3 linked regions of the Homo sapiens genome follow. The protein of the gene in region 2 interacts with the protein of the main gene of each other region in a biochemical or structural test. Each region holds a gene or a part of one and is shown on either strand. Other genes may lie near its edges.

Evidence for each region. The genes of interacting proteins can lie anywhere in the genome.
Region 1: of the proteins of EED (region 2) and PJA1, one has a biochemical effect on the other in vitro, tested with the Homo sapiens proteins (one study listed by BioGRID).
Region 3: the proteins of EED (region 2) and PPP1R8 form a complex in vitro, tested with the Homo sapiens proteins (2 studies listed by BioGRID).

Annotation. Positions count from the first base shown.
Region 1 is NC_000023.11:69,162,454-69,170,127, forward strand, and holds the start of PJA1 (E3 ubiquitin-protein ligase Praja-1), read right to left. Parts: upstream 3,001-7,674; 5' UTR 2,919-3,000; intron 1,014-2,918; exon of another isoform or gene 786-1,013; coding exon of another isoform or gene 621-785; coding exon 1-620. UniProt on the Homo sapiens protein: Has E2-dependent E3 ubiquitin-protein ligase activity. Ubiquitinates MAGED1 antigen leading to its subsequent degradation by proteasome. May be involved in protein sorting.
Region 2 is NC_000011.10:86,247,753-86,254,777, forward strand, and holds part of EED (polycomb protein EED), read left to right. Parts: intron 1-1,696; exon of another isoform or gene 1,697-1,808; intron 1,809-2,543; coding exon 2,544-2,696; intron 2,697-4,395; coding exon 4,396-4,488; intron 4,489-7,025. UniProt on the Homo sapiens protein: Polycomb group (PcG) protein. Component of the PRC2/EED-EZH2 complex, which methylates 'Lys-9' and 'Lys-27' of histone H3, leading to transcriptional repression of the affected target gene.
Region 3 is NC_000001.11:27,840,757-27,847,781, reverse strand, and holds part of PPP1R8 (nuclear inhibitor of protein phosphatase 1), read right to left. Parts: intron 6,769-7,025; coding exon 6,548-6,768; intron 4,597-6,547; coding exon 4,452-4,596; intron 755-4,451; coding exon 690-754; intron 1-689. UniProt on the Homo sapiens protein: Inhibitor subunit of the major nuclear protein phosphatase-1 (PP-1). It has RNA-binding activity but does not cleave RNA and may target PP-1 to RNA-associated substrates. May also be involved in pre-mRNA splicing.

The sequences.
Region 1 (7,674 bases), on a different chromosome or scaffold from region 2:
TTTCTGATTTTGGGCCTGACCACAGGTTCCTCTGCACTCTTTGAGGTGTTTTCCCCACCACCACAAATACTCACAGGAGCCCTGCTGGGACGTGCAGGTAAATTTTGCTCCCTTCTCTCCCTCTCCGAGCTGTCACCTTTTGTAGCCAGCTTGCCTTCAGAAGACGACTGTGAGGCCACACTACTTTGTGGCAGGAAGTCAGCTCTGCTAGCTGAGCATCTTGCTGCAGGGACTGGGTCTAACTTGTCTCGCTCCTCTCTCACATCACGGCTAAAACTAGAGAAATGTGGAGGTGGCCCAGCCAAAGACCTTGCCCCTTTCTCTGGGTCATACAGCTTATCATCTTTAAACTTGCCAGTTTTCCCTCTCACTGGCGGTCGCTCAACAGGCCCAGCCCCCTCCTCCTCACTATCATCTGCCCCATAAGAGTCAATATGTCCATAGGCCATTCCTCTTCTGCTACCCGAAGCTCTGTACTCTCTTGGCGGATACCTGGAATAGTCCTCATTATCAATATTCAGGTTGGTTCCCGAACTCTCGCTGTCGTCCCAACTACGACGAGTAGTGGAAAATGGCGATCGGCTCCTCTTGGTGGTTTGACTGGGGGCTGATCTGTGCATTGGGACTTCGGAGTTCGTCTTTCTCTGGCTGGCAATCCTTTCCCGCTGGCTCGTGGGTGGCCTGAAACTGACATAAGCATGCCTTCTTCCATACCTCCTACCTGTATTGGACTGATACCCTCCTGTTGGATTGGGCCATACAGGCTTGCTAGATTCCTGACCCATCACTCTGACTTAGGAGGGTTTCCAATACAGCTGGGGCTCGGGTAGGAGGGCTCCTGCTCCCTGCACACGTTTTTGAGATGGGAAAGTAAAATCAGTTTAGAATAAAGGAGCAGGGAGATTTATTTTCACTTCAGCAGGCAGGTAACAGAAAGAATAAGGGGCCTTTAAAATTAGTTTCACTTTCTTCTAAGGCCTGGAGTAGCATTCCAGTGACTGTCAGGTGTAGACCTGGAACACATTTTTAATGTTGGCAAAATGATTACAAGACTGGGTTTGCAGGAAAGCCAGACTTAGAGGAGAATCTGACGGAAGGTTGGGGGGTGACTGGACGCTTGGAAGGTGGGTGAAGTACTGTGGAATTGTGCAACGTGGGGAAAGGAAAGACTGCTATAGTTTTTTTTATGGGGTGTCTGCATTTTTCTGAGTGCTGCAGACATACAGGAGAAATGCAAATTGGAATAGAGTGGAAAATACAGATCGCCGTGTGTGCACGAGTGCCTATGTGTCTGTCTATCAAGAGGAGAGGGACAGGTGGAAGGGGACCAGTAATCCTGCAACAGAGGGATGTTTACGTTTGTAGGGGGAAAGGGTATGAGTGTTAGAATGAGACCCATTCTGGATGTGGGTATGAAAATGACAGGCATGGGTGGGGTGGCTTTGGAGGAGAGGGGTGCGTGTATGTATGAGGAAAGGGAAGGTGTTTGTGTGTGTAGCTGTATGTGAGGCAGCTGAAACTACAGAAGGATGCCCATGTTTATGCGTATGTCACAGGCAGAGGAGTGTATGGTTGGCAATGGAGAGGAGTGTCTGAGAGTTTGTGTGTGTGTATGTTAGTCAAAATGGGAGGCAACAATGGAGAAATGTCAGTGTGAGCAAATGCAGCAGGCACAAATGGAAGCGGGGGTGGGGGGTGCGCAGCACTGGAGAGGGATGTGCTTGAGGTGGATGGAACAGAGGCAGGCAATCAAAGAATGATGCCTGCCTGTGTGGATATGGCAAGCAGGGAGGCAGGTTGTGTCCCCGTAGAAGGATTTATGTGAGTGCGAGTGTGTGCACCTCAGGGACCAGCAAAAGAGAGCTGTGTCTGACACACGTGGCAGACAGAGCAATAGAGGAGAGCATTTGAGAAGGGGGTATGAATGAGCACATGTGGCTACATATGTATGTCACTGGCCAGCGATAGAAGGATGTCCTTATGTGTGTATATGACAGGAAGGAAGAAGGAGGGCAGCCGGAGGGGGTGTGTGAATAGGCATGTGTTCGCGAGAGCACGCAGAGGCCGAGCAGGGAGGGGGCCGGTGCTAGAGGTGTGTATGTGGTAGGCGGATAGAGGAGGGGGAAGGCATGGGAGGGTGTGAGGGTGTGAGGGTGTGTGAGAGGGTGTGTGCTGCGTGTGCCTGCGCATGCGCGGGGGAGGGGAAGCACTGGAACCTTGAGGATGGAGGGGCAAGGAGGGGGCTGCAATGGAAGGCTTCTGTGCGGGGGCGCGTGCTCGCGACACACGGGGGGTGGGGGGTAGGGGGGACGCAATGTCATAAAAAGAGGTGGGAAAAGGCCATCAGCTCAAACGGGAGACCCCAACCGATGTGGCAGGGGAGAGGGAAAATGAAAGAAAAGGGCGTGCGTGGGTCTAGTTTTCCCTGAGAATAATTATTTTTTCCTTCCAATTTTTTCCCTGGGAACAGTATTTTTACCTAAAAATCTTAACCATTTACCATTTGGCAAAACAACAGCAAAATATGGGAAGAAAGGCCACGGAGTGCTCCGCAAAGGGGCCGAGGAGGGAAGAAGGAAGGAGAGGGGAGGAGAGGCAGGGAGAAGTGGGAGAGGGCCGCGACCACCACTGCCCTCCCAATAGCGATGAAAGCCACTCGAGTGGGGACCGCGCCACACCAAAGGGGTTCCGGCAGCGGAAGATGTGGCCCCAGAACAGGCCGATGGAGGACATGGGCCTCACTCTGCAGTCAGGTCCCGCGTCCGCCCCACCCCTTCCCGAGGGGCGAACCTGAAAAGCAGTTCCCAGGAACCCCCCAAAATCCTCGCCCCCGTGCCCGGCCACTCGCCCCGCGCCCGGCCACTCGCGCCACCGCCAGCGCCCGGATGAATCGAGGAAACAATCAGCCTTTCACTCACCAAGTCCAGAAAGCCACACGCTTTTCAGAGAAGCAGAGCTCTCGGATCTCCGACCGCCACGACCGCCAGAGCCGCTGCTCCCGGTCCCGAGCTCCTCCCCCGCCAGACAGCAGCGGGGCGGGCGGCGACTGCGGCGGCGGAAGTGATTGTGAAGTCAGCTGGAGCCCGCCTCCTTGATGTGGCGGGGGCGGCAGCTGCTCTCCACAAATCAGGGTGGGCCCGAAAGCATTATTTCATCTTAAATGATGAAATCGTCAAGGATACAGAAAAGGACAGCGAAAAATGTCACAAACACCCAGCTTTAACTAATGTTAAACATTTAGCTATATTGCCTTCTGGTTTTTTAATAAATAAAATAAAATCTGCAAATTCTTTCTGATTAAGTCCAATGTGAGAGTAATTACGTTACTACATCACATCCTATGTTACGTGTTATGGTTGTACCGAAAGTATTAAAACTGTGAAACCATATTTAGGGTTGCAGTAAGCTTAAATTTTTTTTAACCTGATGGTTAAAGCAAATTGAAGCTGTTTATGTTGAATTTGTTGCTGCTAATCACAAAACCAAGCTTCTCTGTCCAAGAGATCATAGGACACAACACAGGTTCATATTCTGTTATTGCATTGCAGTTAAAAATATTGTAGTTACGCCTTTTGGATTTATACCATTTTACTGAATTCTGAAGTCTTTAAATTGCGCTTTATAATGGAACTCTAGTATTTACAGCCAATGTAAACATTTCCCATGTTCACAACAGTAGCAAAGTTTTGTTCTTACTGGAAACAAAATGCATAATAGAACAAAAATCTTAGGGGTAACAACATAATAGAAATAAAATGTATAACTTTCAAACCATTAAAGTAATAATATGTGGAACAAAGAGAAAAACTCATTCTTAACAAAGGTCAAGAAATGTTGCTGGGGGGGTACAAAAAAAAGGATGCAAAAAGAAAACAAAAATGCAGGAATCCAAATATATCAGCATGCATTATGGGTTAACATCTCCTAATAAAAACCAAACTCTTATTTTGAGCATTTTGTTTTTAAAAGCTAAGTTATATTCTATTTATGTGAGTTTCACCTAAAGCAGAAATAGGAATAAAAAATATATGAGAGTAAAATACTAGCAGAAAAAAGGGAGAGAGGGAATGAGGGAAGGAAAGAAGCAAAAAAAAAAAAAAGGAAGGAAAGGAAGGAGGAAACAAACTCGTAACAATATCAATATCCTAAACATCGAGAACTCAAAGTAAAAAGAACTAAAGAGAACAAAACAGGTTGCTTTATTCACTGAGAAAGATATGACAAGCTGGTGGTGTGTGCCTGTAGTCCCAACTACTTAGGAGGCTGAAGCAGGAGGATTGTGTGAGCCCAGGAGGTTGAGGCTGAAGTGAGTGAAGATCACGCCACTGCACTCCAGCCTGGACAACCAAGCAAGATGCCATCTCAAAATGATGATGATAATAATAACAATAATAGAACTTCATTGGTGAGAAATCTGAAACTATCAAATTTTTTAATGGAGATACATTTTCATCTAGCAATTCTACTTCTAGTCAATTGCTCTATTGTGTGTTCTATTGAGACACACAAATGGAGAAAGATATGTGAATAGGAGTGTAGCAAGATAATGCAAACAACTTTAATTCTCCTCAACAAATAAATTGTTTAAATTTATTTAAACATGTTGCATGGTGGCTCATGTACAGACATGGTGGTTGACACCTGTAATCGCAGCACTTTGGGAGACCAAGGCAGGAGGATTGCTTGAGCCCAGGAGTTGAGACCAGCCTGGACAATATGGTGAAACCCCATCTCTACAAAAAAAACGTAAAAATTTCCCTGGCGCAATGGTACGTGCCTGTAGTCCCAGCTACTTGGGAGGCTGAGGTGGGAGAATCACTTGAGCCCAGGAGGTTGAGGCTGCAGTGAGCCAAGATTGCGCCACTGTGATCCAGCCTGGGCAATAGTCAGACCCTGTCTCAAAAAAAAAAAAAAAAAAAAGAAAGAAAGAAAGAAGGCAAGTATATATGTATATATGTACTGGTCTAATATAAATATATTAAGTGAAAAAAGCATGTTGCAGAACAGTGCATTTTAAAAAAAAACATATGATAGTCACAAAAATTTATGTGCCAAACAATGTAGTTTCAAAATATATAAAGCAAATACTGTTAGAAATATAAAGAGAGATCAGGAAGTCTGCAATTATAGTGGGAAACTTCACCTCATTTCTTATGGTATAGATAAATCAAATAGACTGCAAAATAAATAACGATATGAGGAAATGGGACAGTACAATATACCGAATGTATATGTATTTTTGTTTTTTTGAGACAGAGTCTTGCTCTGTCATCCAGGCTGGAGTACAGTGGTAAAATCTTGGCTCACTGCAACCTCCACCTCCCGAGTTCAAGCAATCTCCTGCCTCAGCCTCCTGAGTTGCTGGGACTGCAGGTGTGCACCACCACACCCAGCTAGTTTTTGTATTTTTTAGTGGAAATGGGGTTTCACCATGTTGACCAGGCTGGTCTCGAATTCCTGATCTCAAGCAATCCACCTGCATCGGTATCCCAAAGTGCTGGAGTTACAAGCGTGAGCCACTGTGCCCAGCTTGTATATGTATTTTTGGACTCAAGAGAGGATACATTTTCTTTATAAAAATATTTTTAAATATGTCAACTATACAGAAAAGTAGAGTATAAAATACACATTTTAATGCACCTGTCACATGGATTGAGCAAATTTTATTTTCTCCAGATCCTCAGATCCTTCTGTTTTTGAAACAAAATAGTACAGATGAAGCCCTCACTTCATCCTATTCACTTGACCTCTCTCTTGAAAATAAGCCTTATTTGGAAGTTGATGTGCTGTCGTCTTGTTCATGTTTGTGTGTGTGTGTATGTGTATATATATATATATATATATATATATGTGTGTGTATATATATGTATGTATATATGTGTATATATGTATATGTGCATATAAGTGTATGTATACATATATATACAGATATATAATATATATTTACATATATATATCTGTGACCAATACACAATTTTGTTTCATGTATTTAAATTATACAGATGGTATCATTATAAATATATACTTTTGCAACTTAGATTTTCACTCTGTTGTTTTTTGAAACTCAGCAATTTTGATACCTGTAGATCTGAGTCATGCATTTTAACTGCTGAATATTACTGTATCAATTATCCAATACATTACTATAACATATTATTGTATGGACTTCTTTTGCATAAGTTATCCAATTTATCTCTTTTCCTACTGTTTCTGTTTTGTGCAATTATAAGTGAGGATTCAATGAACATCCTAGTGCATGGCTCCTTGTGCCTACATAGAAGAGTTTCTTCAGGGCAGAGCTTCCCAACTGAGTTATAAGTGTTCTGATATATTGATCCCCTTAGCTCTCCAGGAAGGTAGCTTTGGCTTCAGCAGCTGCCCCTAGAGACTGTTGCCTCTGGCCAAGAGCACACTGTCTGTTTATTCCAGTGAGCTGATAGCATTTTAAATATATGTTCTGATGTGAAAAGGATTGAAATAAATTGCTCTAGTATGGAAACATTGAAGTAGAATTTCTTGGTCAAAGAGTATGTAGTAGGTATCTATTGCTGTGTAACAAATTTCCCTAAAACATAGCAGCTAAAAACAACAAACATTTATCATATCAGTTTCTATGGGTCTGGAATCCAGGCATGGCTTAGTTAGGTGCCTCTGACTCAAACTTTCTTACGAGGTTGCACCCAAGCTCTCATCTAGGGTTGCAGTCTCATTTGAAGGCTCAAGTAGGGTAAGAGGTCCACTTCCAAGCTCTTTTACATGGTTGTTGACAGGCCAAAGAAGACCCATTTCTAAGCTAACTCATGTGGCTGTTGTCAGACTTTGATTCCTTGTCGTGTGGACCTATCCGTAGGCTTCCTAAGTCTCCTCACAGCATGGTAGCTGGAGAGAGAGAAAGAGAGAGAGAGAGAGAGAGAGAGATCCCAAGAGGAAAGATGCAGTCTTTTTATAACTTAATCTCAGAAGTGAGATCTCATCACTTTTGCCATATCCTATTCATTAAAAACAAGCCATGGAATTTGTTCATTTTATCTAAGTAATCAAATTTGTGGCCATAGAGTTGTTCATAATACTTTTTATTATCCTTTTAATGTCCATGAGGTCAGTAGCAATGGCTCCTCTCTAATTTCTGATATGAGTAATTTTGTTTACTCTCTTTTTTTCTGGGTCAGTCTGGCTACAAGCTTCTCAATCTTGTTGACCTTTTCAAAGAACCAGCTTTTGATTGTATTGCTTTTTCTCTACTATTGTTCTGTTTTCAATTTCATTGATTCCTGTTTTAATTTTTATTGCATTTTTTTCTGCTTACTTTGGGCTGAATTTGCTGTTTTATTTTCTAGTTTCCTAAGATGGAAGCTTAGATGATTTATTTAAGGTATTTCTTATTTTCTAATGTATGCATTCAATGCTACAAATTTCCCTCTAAGCACCACTTTTGCTGCATCCCACAAATTTTGGTAATTTATCTCAAAATATTTTAAAATTTATCTTGACACTTCTTCTCTAACCCATGTTTTCTTTAGAAGTATATTGTTTAATCCCCAAATATTATGTGATTTTCCAGCTACCATTCTTCTATTGATTCCTAATTCAATTTCATTGTGGTCTGAAAGCATACTTTGTATAATGTCTATTCTTTTAAATTTGTTGAGGCATGTTTCATGGCCCAGGATGTAG
Region 2 (7,025 bases):
TAGTTTTACTCTTGAGGGAGCCAAATAATGGCAAAAGGCCAAAGCAGATGGGGTGTGGGGGAATATGTTTTTGTGTTAGAGTTCAGGTAACCTGAGCAGTTACTACTGTTAATGTGAGTCAGAGAATTACAGGCACATATTTTACATTTATTGTGTTACCTGCCATTTTATTGAACTTTTTGAGATCATATGACTGCAGAGTAGTTGGCTTCTGCGAGAGTACTAATGGATGCCTTGGTAGTAAGATCAGAGGGCTGAATCTGGAGACTTGTCTTTTTGCTTAAGCAAAAGCAAAGATGCAGGGAATCCCTGTGGCAAGATGCAGGTGCAAATTACTGCCCTGTGTCTCTTTCCTCGTTGGGCAAGTGAAGATGGTAGTACCATGTCTGTTGCACAGTATCATTCTTTACTTTGAGAATGGAATAGGATGGAGGTCACCCTGTACATATATTAGACACTCAGCAAAGACTTGATTTTAGTTTAAAGATAAAATGGAAGCATGGTGGCTGTATTACATTTTCATTTGATTCCATCTTGATTTGCCTTGGGAGGAGATGGGTAAATTAAGTGATCAGAAGTAAAATAAGCAACGTGCCCTATTAACGAATGTTTTGTGTGGCCTCTGTATTGGCAGCTCAGTGTTTAGCCAGAATGTAAAGAAACTGATATATAAAAACGTCTTAGAGTTTTTAAAATTTCAGTTCTCTAGTGTTAAAAGGTAATTTTACAGAAAAAATGGCAAGTGAACACATGTTGAAACTTTTACTCAGAGGGAACCAGGCAAATGTTATACAGTAATGGTTAACCCGCAAAATCAAAACAGTACAAATTTATTAATATATGGAGTAAAGGAATGGAGAGATGAATTCCAAATGGAGACAGAAACTTTTTTTTCCCTTGAGTGGAAGGGAAGACATTTTGAACCTCTACTGTAGAGACAAAATTTACATGTCTATCAGTTATTCATAATGAAAAAAGAGTTGTGGCTGGGCGCAGTGGCTCACACCTGTAATCCCAGCACTTTAGGTGGCTGAGGTGGGAGGATCCTTTGAGTCCAGGAGTTTGAGACCAGCCTGGGCGACATCGTGAAACTCTGTCTCTACCAAAAATTAGCTGGGTGTGGTGGCCAGCTCCTGTTGTCCCAGCTACTCAGGAGGCTAAGGTGGGGGGAAGATCACTTGAGTCTGGGAGGTGGAGGTTGCGTTGAACCAAGGACAGAGTGGGTGACAGAGGGAGAGCCTGTCTCAAAAAAGAGTTGTAAGATAGCTCAAAGACATAGTGGAGGGCTATAGTCTGGTAACTTGGAAGGATGTGCTATATAGATAATGCATAGTTTTCCACTGAGATACAGAATTGTTTTCTACGTTTGATGTTAATTATGTGAATACAACTGAAAAGGTGGAGAGAAAAAGAGATTAAAATACCACATTTTCTATTTCTGTAAAGACTAATGATATTCACATTAAATTACAATTCAAATATTTGTTGAGTACGTACTGCTTGCTACCCGCCTATTATTTCATTTATGATATTTTTTAACCTTCTATATAAAACCAACTTTAGGAAGCAATAATTTAAAAATAGCCCCTAAAGCAGTGTTTCCTAGGCTGTTTAATAGGCATTTCATGGAAAAAAAAAAAAAAAAAGGCTTCCTCTGGAATGTATTTTAGAACTGCTGCCCTAAGATCCTAGATTAAATAAATCTTTTCTTTCCAAAGGAGACATTGGAATCTGTAATCAGGAGGTAGTGGAATCCTCTTCTGAGATTAGAGAGCTGAGATTAGAGGGCCACTCGTGTGTGAGATAAGGTATGAATTAGGAGAATTTTCAAGGTTTCCTGCAGTCATTTCTTTTTTTTGGAAGGATTTACTTTAATTGTGATTGAGAGTCTCTGGAGTTCTGATTTATGAGTATTATTACTTTAGAACAATGAGACAGTTTTAACTTGTAAATAGCATAGAATATATGTAGCACTTTAAAAAAATTCTAAATGTTTTGCGTTATAAGCAGAATTTGAATAACAGGATTTTAAAAAGTGACATCTAATGTAGAAGCCATTAACACTCCTGCTTCAAACGGCTCCCCAGCTCCATGCTCCAGACTGAGCAGCAGTCAAATACATTATGAAGACATATACATCAGTCAGATTTAAGAGTCACAGCTTTGGGATGGAATTACCAGCCAAGAGACCAGTTAGGCTTTTTCAGCACTTCCAGTACCTTTTGTAAAGAGCTGTAAAGATTCACTGATACAGTGTATTAAAGTGACTGGAACAGACCAGTGCCTTATTAAAGACAGTATTACTCTTCCATTATTCTCATTAGTATTTATTTCATTTTCATTTTTGTTGAAATATAAAATATCTACAAACCTTCTAACCTGTAGCTGGATTATGTTTATCCTTATGTGGAGGCAAGAATACATTTTTTTCTTCTTGTAGAAATTATTTCTCTTAGGTCAGTCAGCATCTTCCCAGTAGAGTTATTTACTGCTAAAAACAGTATTGCTGTTTCATGTAATTTTTCCTCATTTACTGCTTACAGGATGACGCTGTCAGTATAGAAAGTGGTACAAACACTGAACGCCCTGATACACCTACAAACACGCCAAATGCACCTGGAAGGAAAAGTTGGGGAAAGGGAAAATGGAAGTCAAAGAAATGCAAATATTCTTTCAAATGTGTAAATAGTCTCAAGGTATGTGCAAAAAAAGATCCTTTGGGCTGAATGCTAGGCTTCAGAAATTATTTCTCTGTGGCACGCATTTCGTACTCAGGATACTCTGTCAAGTTGTAAATATTTTAAAGTTACAATGTTTTCTGAAGGGTTTTTTTTTTTGTAGTTCAGACTGCGTATCTATTTTAGTCCATCCCATGTTTAGTTTTTTGGTTTTGTTTTTTGTTGTTTTAATTTAAATATGTGACAGTGTTGCAGGATGTTTTTGCTTTATTGTTTGCATTCAAATTATAAGATTTGGGTAACTATTACTCTTTATATTTTAGTAAAACTTAAAAAACATAAGCCACTTCTGGCATCAGTTTTTAAAAAGAACTGAATGTAACCCATTAACTTTGACTAAGTATAAATTGAAACAGATGTTTTACTTTGTACAGTTTCTGTCCTTTGTTTTATTTATAACTGTTTTCAAAGAAAAAGGTGTAAAAAATTTTTAAACTTTTTAATATTAAATATTTAGGGAAAAGGGGGTTTTGGTTATTTAAATTAATCTGTCCCCAATAGTATTTTTATTTACTTTATAAAAGGGGTTACTGGTGTTTAAGATATTTTCTTTTATATATGTCCAGTTTGTTTTTTAAATGTGAGGCTATTTTTTTCTATACTGAGGAAAAATGTGTATTATCTCATACATATGTAAGTTAAAACCTTTTCTAAATATCCAAATATATTTTTTATAAGTAAAGTTTTGGGAAAGCATAAGAAGCTATGACTATGACATTTTTCTGTCTGTGTAGCAAAAATTCGATGCTCAGTGTGTCAGATTTTGCTCCTGTAAAAGGAGAGAAATTAATCTCAGCATATTTTTTAAAAGTCAATTATAGTTTCATGTGCATATTTATTTACATTAACGTACTACTTTTAGGTACTGTACCTGGAAGATGTTTTTAGCTGCCTTTTATACTTAAGGCAGTATTTCAAAATCCTAAAGCTGTGGCTTTTCAAATGATGAGAAAACGAAAGACGTACTTTAAAAGTGAAAACAGTGCCTTAAACTGCATCTGAAAGTCAGTGTTAAATGCCAGAAGTTGGCCAGTAAAATCCTAAAGCTGAAAAATAACTTTGTGAACAAAAGTGCATAATTGTTCTTTGTACATCTCCTATAGCCTCCTGGTAACTGTGCAGTTACAGTTTATTTCTTCCCCTAGTCCCCAGTGTTCAGATATTCTCATTCTGACTAACAGAAAACAGTGATTTGAATGGAGTCTGCTATGCTTCACTTTACAAGGGAAAAATTTAGCCTTATAAAATTTAGTGAATGCCAGAGAAGCTATTAAGGCCATCTGTTAATTTCCTGTTTCAGAAAAATAAATTGTGTCCTTTTGTATCCACCAAAATTATCCAGTTTATTGTGATTCAGAATATGATTGGCTTATTAAGAAAAAGGCAAATATTATAAGTGTTTTCGTAGGTAAGCGGTTATTACCTAACTTGTGATTTCAGCCTTTGGTTGTGATAAAACTTTATCATACACAATATTTTAAAATGTGAAAACTAGACTAGTAGACATCTTTTAATTTTAGTGTCAAAAGTTAGCTTATGTATGATACACAAAATAATGTATTGCATTTTGGAAAAAAGAAGGGGATAGGTTAGTTTACTGTCATTTTCTGGTTTGTAAGATACATTAATCTTTTCTTATTTCATGATTATTTTATAGGAAGATCATAACCAACCATTGTTTGGAGTTCAGTTTAACTGGCACAGTAAAGAAGGAGATCCATTAGTGTTTGCAACTGTAGGAAGCAACAGAGTGAGTGTTAAGGGGTCTATTTAGTATTTGGCTTGATTTCCAGATCTGGTGTTAATGTAATATTGAAATAGAATAATTTCAAAGTGCATTTTGTGAAGCTGGTTTAGCAATATGATTCTTTCATGTAAGAGTGAAGGTTTCTAGAAATTAATTAAAACTAGTATGCATGGCTGAAAATACATCTATATTTAATATATTACCCCTAATTATTTATGAAACAGGTTTTATACTTGTATTTGTCTTCATAAATACTTGGTTGAAAGAATTGGCGTCCTTTTTTTTTTTTTTTAATTGGCGTTCTTTTTAAAGTGATTTTGGTATTTATCATTCAAATAGCGTAAGAACTGGCTGTGATTTTTTTAAAATTAAGGTAATGAATGGCTCTATAAATGAAGCATAAATCCAGTGGATTTAAATAAGTTATTGAGATGTTTTAATTACTTGCAGTAAACATTTGAGTTTGCTGGGTTTTTTTGTTTTGAGACAGGTAGTGTTTGGTGGTGATTGTTGTTGTTGTTGTTGTTGTTTGTTTTTGAGAGAGAGAGAGTCTTACTCCTTCCTCCAGGATGGAGTGCAGTGGTTAATCAAGGCTTACTGCAGCCTCAACTTCTGGGGCTCAGGTGATCCTCCCATGTCAGCCTTCTGAGTAGCTACAGGCATGCACTACCATCCCTGGCTAATTTTTTTTGTAGGGATAGGTTTTCACCGTGTTGCCCATGCTGGTCTTGAACTCTTGGGCTCAAGCAATCTACCTGCCTTGGCCTCCCAAAGAGCTGGGGTTGCAGTCATGAGCCACCATGTCCAGCCTTTTAAGGAAATTTTATAATGACATGTAAGGCTCTAGGCCTTTTACTATTTGACAAGGTCAATTCATTGAAACTCTAAATATTTTTAAGTTACCACTGAAGTTGATAACATGAAATAATAGCTTTTTTTCTTCTGTTTTTGGTGTTTAGTCAAATGTAGGTTTTAAGATAATGTAGTCTGCTTATAGTTGTTTAGTTCCTAGATTCTTTGAAAACAACAATTCAGAGGAAAAATTTTGCGGTTTTAAGAAAAGGTTGAGGTTATTTTTTTCCTAGTTGGGAATGTAGTGCATTAATTAAATTTGAGTCCACTTTTAAGACACCACTGTAAACCTAAGTTAATATTTAGCTTTGATAGTATTATAATTGGTATAGTTTGTGCTCCAGTGTGCTGATTGCAGTGTTTTAGGTTTTCTAACAAAAAGAATCCCTATTTTTATTTAAAGTGACATAAAGGGGTGTCATATAGTTTATTGAATTATAAAAAGTTCTGCTGTTAGAATTTCTTTAAAAGGAAGAAAGAAAACAAAAACAATTACCACATAAGACATAACCTAGTTAGCAGCCATATAAAGAATTTTTTTTGAACATTAACATAGAGGAGATAATGAATTAATAGGTTGTGATGATACACAGGATCTTCAGAGGTCTTCAGTACTATTATAAAATAATAATAGGTTTTTGCTAATGTGACTGACTATAAGCTATAAGAAAAATGGGGCCGGGCACAGTGGCTCACGCCTGTAATCCCAGCATTTTGGGAGGCTGAGGCAGGTGGATCACCTGAACTCAGGAGTTCGAGACCAGCCTGACCAACGTGGTGAAACCCTGTCTCTACTAAAAACACAAAAATTAGCTGGGCATGATAGCGAGTGCCTGTAATCTCAGCTACACGGGAGGCTGAGGCAGGAGGATCACTGGAATCCGGGAGGCAGAGGTTGCAGTGAGCCAAGATCATGCCATTGCACTCCAGTCTGGACGACAAGAGTGAAACTCTGTCTCAAAAAAAAAAAAAAAAAAAAAAAAAAAGAAAATGGAAAGAAATTTATAAAAGTTTAGTATTACAAAATTGTGTATGGTGTATGTATAGTTTTAATTTTAGAGTATGCAACAAATGAAAAAGGCTATCATACATGTGAAAGTTAATGTTTGATTATCTGTACCCATGAGAAAATAATTCATTAAGCAAATTGTAGACTTTTAAATATGTAACTAATATGTAAATACTCCAAAACTATCCAAAGACTTATTTTTATTTGAATTTTTATTTTTTATGGTTTTTTTTTTTTTTTGAGACTGAGTCTCTCTCTGTTGCCCAGGCTGGAGTGCAGTGGTGCAATCTTGGCTCACTGCAACTTCTGCCTCCTGGGTTCTAGCGATTCTCCTGTCTCAGCCTCCTGAGTAGCTGGGACTACAGGCACATGCCACCACACCCACCTAATTTTTGTATTTTTAGTAGAGACGGGGTTCCACCGTGTTAGCCAGGATGGTCTTGATCTCCTGACCTCGTGATCCACCCGCCTCGGCCTCCCAAAGTGCTGGGATTAAAGACATGAGCCACTGTGTCCGGACTTATTTTATTTTATTTTTTTTTGAGACAGAGTTTCGCTTTTGTTGCCAGGCTGGAGTGCAATGGTGCAATCTCGGCTCACTGCAACCTCCGCCTCCCGGGTTCAAGTGATTCACCAGCCTCAGCCTCCTGAGTAGCTGGGATTACGGGCATGTGCCACC
Region 3 (7,025 bases), on a different chromosome or scaffold from region 2:
TAAAATTAAGCACTCACTCAACAGCACATAAAGAGCAGGTTATTTTTTTTTTGAGATGGAGTCTCGCTCTGTCACCAGGCTGGAGTGCAGTGGCACCATCTCAGCTCACTGCAACTTCCACCTCCCCGGTTCCAGCGATTCTCCCACCTCAACCTCCCAGTTAGCTGAGACTACAGGAATGCGCCACCACACCCAGCTAATTTTTGTATTTTTAGTAGAGACAGGGTTTCAACATGTTGGCCAGGATGGTCTCAATCTCTTTTTTTTTTTTTTTTGAGACAGAGTCTTGCTCTGTTGCCCAGGCTGGAGTGCAATGGTGCGACCTCAGCTCACTGCAACCTCCGCCTCCCAGGTTCAAGCGATTCTCCTGCCTCAGCCTCCTGAGTAGCTGGGATTACAGAGACCTACCACCACGCCTGGCTAATTTTTGTATTTTTAGTAGAGACAGGGTTTCACCATGTTGGCCAGGTTGGTCTCGAACTCCTGACCTCAGGTGATCTGCCTGCCTTGGCCTCCCAAAGTGCTGGGATTACAAGTGTGAGCCACTGTGCCTGGCCTCGATTTCTTGACCTCTTGATCTGCCTGCCTCAGCCTCCCAAAGTGCTTGGATTACAGGCATAAGCCAACGCGCCTGGCCTAAAGAGCAGGTTTTAAAACACAGACTGTATGGCATTTCATGTGCTTCCTACCTTGACTGGGACCACTGCAGTTTGCACCATGTTCCTGAATCGACCAACTGAGGGATCCACATCCTCTGCAAAAAGAGAAGAGGGCAGGGTTGGGTTGGTACTTTACTGGGAGGAATAAGGGCACAGGAGTCACTGCAAACAAACCATCACAACAACTCATATTAAAATTGTAAAACACAGAGAGTGCTTCCTGGGTGCTGGGCATTGTGCTAAATCCTCACAAAGACCCTGTGATGTAGGTACTACCACAATCAACATTTAGTAGATGAGAAAGCAAACTGAGGCTTGGAGGAGCAAAGGGACTGGCCCAGTTGCTCTGGTGGAGAGTACAGGAGCCAGGACTTGAGTCCAAGTAGTTCAAAACAGGCCTGTGATCTGCACCACTGTGCTGTGCTGCCCTCCCCCAAGTTCTTTCCCATTCTGTATAACTCCCTCTTTTGAGGGGAAAGAAAAGAAGAGTAGACATTATCAGTTCCATATCAGTGACAAAACAATGACATGTCAAGAGGTCACATATCAAATGCCTTGCTAATGCCTGCTTATTAGCAAAAAAACGGATTTTGGTTTCAAAGCCAGGGCTTCAAACTGAACCTGGCCTTTTGACTTGAACGGCCTGAACTGTATATAAGCAAGACTTGCACTAAAGGCTCTGATGCCCCCGTCTACACGGGAAATGAAGAGCAAGATACTGTCCCACCCTTGAATTCACAGTCACAGAGCCAGATAGGCTACAACACAGAGGTGCTTCAAGAGAAGTGCACAACAGTGTTTCTGGAGCACAGAGGGGATGACTGGGCTGGATCACCAAGGATGGTGGAGTTTTCTCACTGAAGGTTGAATGTGAGTGGAAACATGCAGAGGCACCAACTTATGTACCACTACTAGAGAAAACTACTCCAAGCCCCAGTTAACTTAATATAGTGATAGAGAAGGAATCATTTCCCTAATAGATGTTGTCATCTTATTTTCAATGAGGTTGCTTGTTATTGAAAGAAACACTCCTGGCCGGGTGCGGTGGCTCACGCCTGTAATCCCAGCACTTTGGGAGGCCGAGGTGGGCAGATCATGAGGTCAGGAGGTCGAAACCATCCTGGCTAACATGGTGAAACTCCGTCTCTACTAAAAAATACAAAAAATTAGCTGGGTGTGGTGGCGTGCACCTGTAGTCCCAGCTACTCGGGACGCTGAGGCAGGAGAATGGCGTGAACCCGGGAGGTGGAGCTTGCAGTGAGCCGAGATCACGCCACTGCACTCCAGCCTGGGCGACAGAAGGAGACTCCGTCTCAAAAAAAAAAAAAAAAAAAAAAAAGAAAGAAAGAAAGAAAGAAAAACTCCCAGAAATCCCTTTGGAAAACAAAGAATCACTATTTAATTTGAGTAATTATAATTAGCCCCTGGTTTATTTGCTTTAAGTCTGGATTTTTTCACATATTAGGATCCATGCCTTTAAAGAGGACACTCTGGTATTATATTCACCATCAATCTATGCTCAATGAACAAATGGCTTCTATATAGACGAGAAAGGACAAAAATATCCAAGCTGATTAAGAAAGAGACAATGTCTCTAAAAAGGTATCCCAAACTTCTCTCATGGCCCCTCCGGTTTCAGAGCCTGTGCTCTTAACCACTATGCTATACTGCCTGAACACATTTCCCTAAGAAAGCTCGAGGGCACTAATTTTCTTTCTTTCTTTTTTTTTTTTGAAACGGAGTCTTGCTCTGTCGCCCAGGCTGGAGTGCAGTGGCACCATCTCGGCTCACTGCAAGCTCCGCCTCCTGGGTTCACGCCATTCTCCTGCCTCAACCTCCCAAGTAGCTGGGACTACAGGCGCCCGCCACCACACCCAGCTAATTTTTTATATTTTTAGTAGAGATGGGGTTTCACCGTGTTAGCCAGCATGGTCTTGATCTCCTGATCTCGTGATCCGCCCACCTCGGCCTCCCAAAGTGCTGGGATTATAGGGGTGAGCCACCGTGCCCGGCCGAGGGCACTAATTTTCAGTGAGAAAAACAGAGCAGATCAGATCCTCACTCCTGAAAGAGACTTAAGAAATTTGTCAGGCCGGGCATGGTGGCTCACGCCTGTAATCCCAGCACTTTAGGAGGCCGAGGCGGGCGGATCACGAGGTCAGGAGATCGAGACCATCCTGCCTAACACGGTGAAACCCCGTCTCTACTAAAAAAAAAAAAAAAAAAAAAAAAAAAAAATTAGTCGGGCATGGTGGCGGGCGCCTGTAGTCCCAGCTACTCGGGAGGCTGAGGCAGGAAAATGGCGTGAACCCAGGAGGCGGAGGTTGCAGTGAACTGAGATCGTGCCACTGCACTCCAGCACTCCAGCCTGGGTGACAGAGCGAGACTCTGTCTCAAAAAAAAAAAAAAAAAAAAAAAAGAAATTTGTCTAGTCCAGTGGTTCCCAAATTGCTGGCTGTTGTACAAACAGGAGCTCATTAAAAAATATAAATTTTGGGCTGGGCGCGGTAGCTCACGCCTGTAATCCTAGCACTTTGGGAGGTTGAGGGCAGATCACCTGAGGTCAGGAGTTCAAAACCAGCCTGGCCAACATGGTGAAACCCCGTCTCTACTAAAAATACAAAAAAATTAGCCAGGTGTGGTGGCAGAAGCCTATAATTCCAGCTACTTGGGAGGCTGAGGCAGGAGAATCACTTGAACCCAGGAGGCAGAGGTTGCATGAGCCGAGATTGCGTCACTGCACTCCAGCCTGGGTGACAGAACGAGACTCCGTCTCAAAAAATAAATAAATAAAAATAAAAAATAAAAAATAAAAATTTCAGCCAGGCATGGGGACTCATGCCTGTAATCCCAGTGCTTTGGGAGACTGAGGCAGGAGGATCGCTTAAGCCCAGGAGGTCAAGACCAGCCTGGGCAACATGATGAAACCCCATTTCTACAAAACATATGACAATTAGCTGAGCGTGGTGACGTGCACCTGTTGTCCCAGATACTCAGGAGGTTGAGGTGGGAGGATCACCTGAGCCTGGGTGGTCAAGGCTGTAGTGAGCCGTGACTGTGCCACTGCACTCTAGCCTGGGCGACAGAATGAGATCGTGTCTCACACACACACAAAAAAGAAAAATTAAAAAACATATAAATTTCTAGGTCCAACCCTGGAAACTCTTTTTTGGAGACAGTCTCACTCTGTCACCCAGGTGGGAGTGCAGTGGCACAACCTCGGCTCACTGCAACCTCTGCCTCCCAGGTTTAAGCGATTCTCCTGCCTCAGCTTCCTGAGTAGCTGGGACTGCAGGTGTGTGCCACCATGCCTGGCTGATTTTTTTATTTTTTGTAGAGACAGGGTTCTGCCATGTTGGCCACCCTGGTCTTGAAATCCTGGCCTCAAGCAATCCACCAACTTCAACCTTCCAAAGTGCTGGGATTATAGGCATGAGCCACTATGCCTGACCAACCACAGCTTTTTCTTTCTTTTTTTTTTGTCACCTAGGCAGGAGTGCAATGGCACAATCCCGGCTCACTGCAGCTTCTGCCTCCTGGGTTCAAGCAATTCTCCTGCCTTAACCTCCCAAGTAGCTGGGACTACAGGCGAACACCACCATGCCCAGCTAATTTTTGTATTTTTTTTAATAGAGATGGGGTTTCACCTTGTTGGCCAGGCTAGTCTTGAACTCTTGACCTTAAGTGATCCACCCTCCTCGGCCTCCCAAAGTGCTAGGACTACAGGCGTGAGCCACCGCGCCCGGGCCAACCACAGCTTTTTCATCAGAATAAACTAGCAAGATACCTCACCTGGGTTGATGATCTCATCATCCTCACTGAATGTCACCCGTGAGTTCTTCCTCTTCCTCTTTGGTCTTTGAATGTCCAGATTTCCCTCCTCAATGGTAAGGGTAGAAATCCGCTTGTTGTGGGCAGTGTTGAACTCTGTCAGGTTCTAAGCCAGGGTTCATACAGGAAAGACAGCAGTCAGTACAAAGGGAATCTGATGGAGAAAATCATACTAAATAAAGGTGAGGAAGGCATGAGGGGCTAATCTTGACCTCCAAAGGGAGTTGAGACACTTCTGCATTTAGAGAAGATTCATACTGTCCCGAGACTACGAATACTAACAAGTCTCAAGTCTCATTAGAAAGAATGTGGAACATCCTCATTGACTAGTGGGGCAGTGATATTCAAGAGGTAAAGGGCCTTGAGCTGAGAACAGGTCATCTGTGCAAATATCCTTGAGTTGTGTTTTTTGTTGTTGCTGAAGAAAGGCTATCATGTCTTCATGCCCACAATAAGCTGAGAATTAAAAGGAAATGTGGCTGGAAGGAACGCCAAGAATTGTTTTTAAGTAACAAAATTGAGATGAAAAAGGACAACTGGCTGCTTCCTTCCTAGTAGCTTTCTCCTTCAAAATTAAGGACACTGCTAGTGCACTTAATTTTTGGCGTTAATATTTTGTCATGCCCCATCCTGTGTCTGGCCCCAATTCTATTCATAACTATCTCAATAATTAACTTGGCCTTAGCTCTGTTGCTTGCCTCTTCCCAATCCACTGAAATTATTCCTTTCTGGTACAAACCACAAGTTTGAGATATTCTAAATGTCTTAAGAATGAAGATCCAGGGAGTACCTAACATACTGAACTAAAAGCCATGGAAGTATAGCAGCAGCCTGGATAAGGTGGCCTAAAGGGGAAATGGGCAACAGCAAGGTCCCTGGCTATGAAGCCACTTCTTCAAAACAAAACGACTTCTTAATTGTAAAATTTCTCTTTTTTTTTTTTTTTTTTGAGACGGAGTTTCGCTCTTGTTGCCCAGGCTGGAGTGCAACTGCGCGATCTTGGCTCACCACAACCTCCACCTCCCAGGTGCAAGTGACTCTCCTGCCTCAGCCTCCTGAGTAGCTGGGATTACAGGCATGCACCACCACACCCAGCTAATTTTTTGTATTTTTAGTAGAGATGGGGTTTCTCCATGTTGGCCAGGCTGGTCTCGAACTCCTGACCTCAGGTGATCCGCCCACCTCGGCCTCCCGAAGTGCTGGGGTTACAAACATGAGCCACTGTGCCCGGCCTAAGTTGTACAATTTCTATCGTGCTTTTCTTCCTAAGAGCCAGGAAACTGCCTTGGTGTACAGGAATAGTAAATGCAGGTGGGTGGTTAAGGACATGATTGCATTTGGTCTATTTGAACAGACCAATCACACCAGTGCAGTGACAGCTATGTAAAGGACTATAGCCACACCAAACTACTGGGGTCAGTTTCAAAAAAGGAAAACTTCTAGCACCTTAAAATTAAATCTTATAAAATTCATGGCCCTCAGGACAGCGAGGCCCATGGAAGAACAAAAGCAGTCTGGCTCTATTCAGAAGATTCCTGGACTGTTCAGATAGCACCAAAAAAAGCTACATGAATGAATGAAAATGTCAGTCTCTCTAAGCCAGTGCTGTCTGACAGAACTTTCTGTGAGGATGAAAACATTCTCTCTTTGCACTAGCCAACATAGCAGCCACTAGCCATATGTGACTACATAATACTTGAAATATTGTTAGTGGCTACCATATTGGACAGCATTAGCTCTAAGCAGTCAAGGGACAGAGAAATGTAGCTTCCAGTCTTAGCTTCTAACAGCCAGTGAAGGTGCACAAAACAGCTCAAGGAGACTAGTGGCTGGGACTCAGCCTCCTTGTTAGGCCTGGTGATACACAACCAAATCCATACAATGTGGCTCTCCGAGAGCTGTCACAGCTGGCCACACCAGATTGCCAAAGGCCCATTACTGGACTCAAGAGAACCCCCTGCTGCTAAGTCACTGGCATTTCCAGCTACATAGAACAGCTGTATACTCCAAAAACCAGGGTCCCCAAAGACAAAACAATGACATAAACAGGGAATTACATCAAGCTCAGTTTCCTCCTCTGGAAGCCCCAGTAAGCCCTTGAGTTCATCATCCTCTCCACCCATCTTCTCATCTCCTTTCACAGCCGATGGCAATGTCTGAGGCTTCTCGCGCAGAGTGTATGCCCTTGTGGATGCGCCAAATGAGACCGTGGAATCGATGGGAATTTGCTGAGGCTTGTGAGGTTCCAACCGAATGTGACCCAAGAAAGTGCCGTGTGCTGGGAATAACCAAATCAGAAACGTAAGGGGGAAAACAAAAACAACCTGAGTTTTAGAAGGAAGAGTATGATCGCCAACTCTCTTATCAGGTCAGCTTCCCCCCAGCACATCAGTTTTGCTTTTTTGTCTGTTTTTAATTTATTTTAAAAATGCCATAGTCAGGATCATGGTCAGAAACTCCAGCTTTTTAAAAAATGAAAATGGCACTGGGTCCACCACATCCATCATGTGTTACAGTGAGAAGGAAACTCCCTCA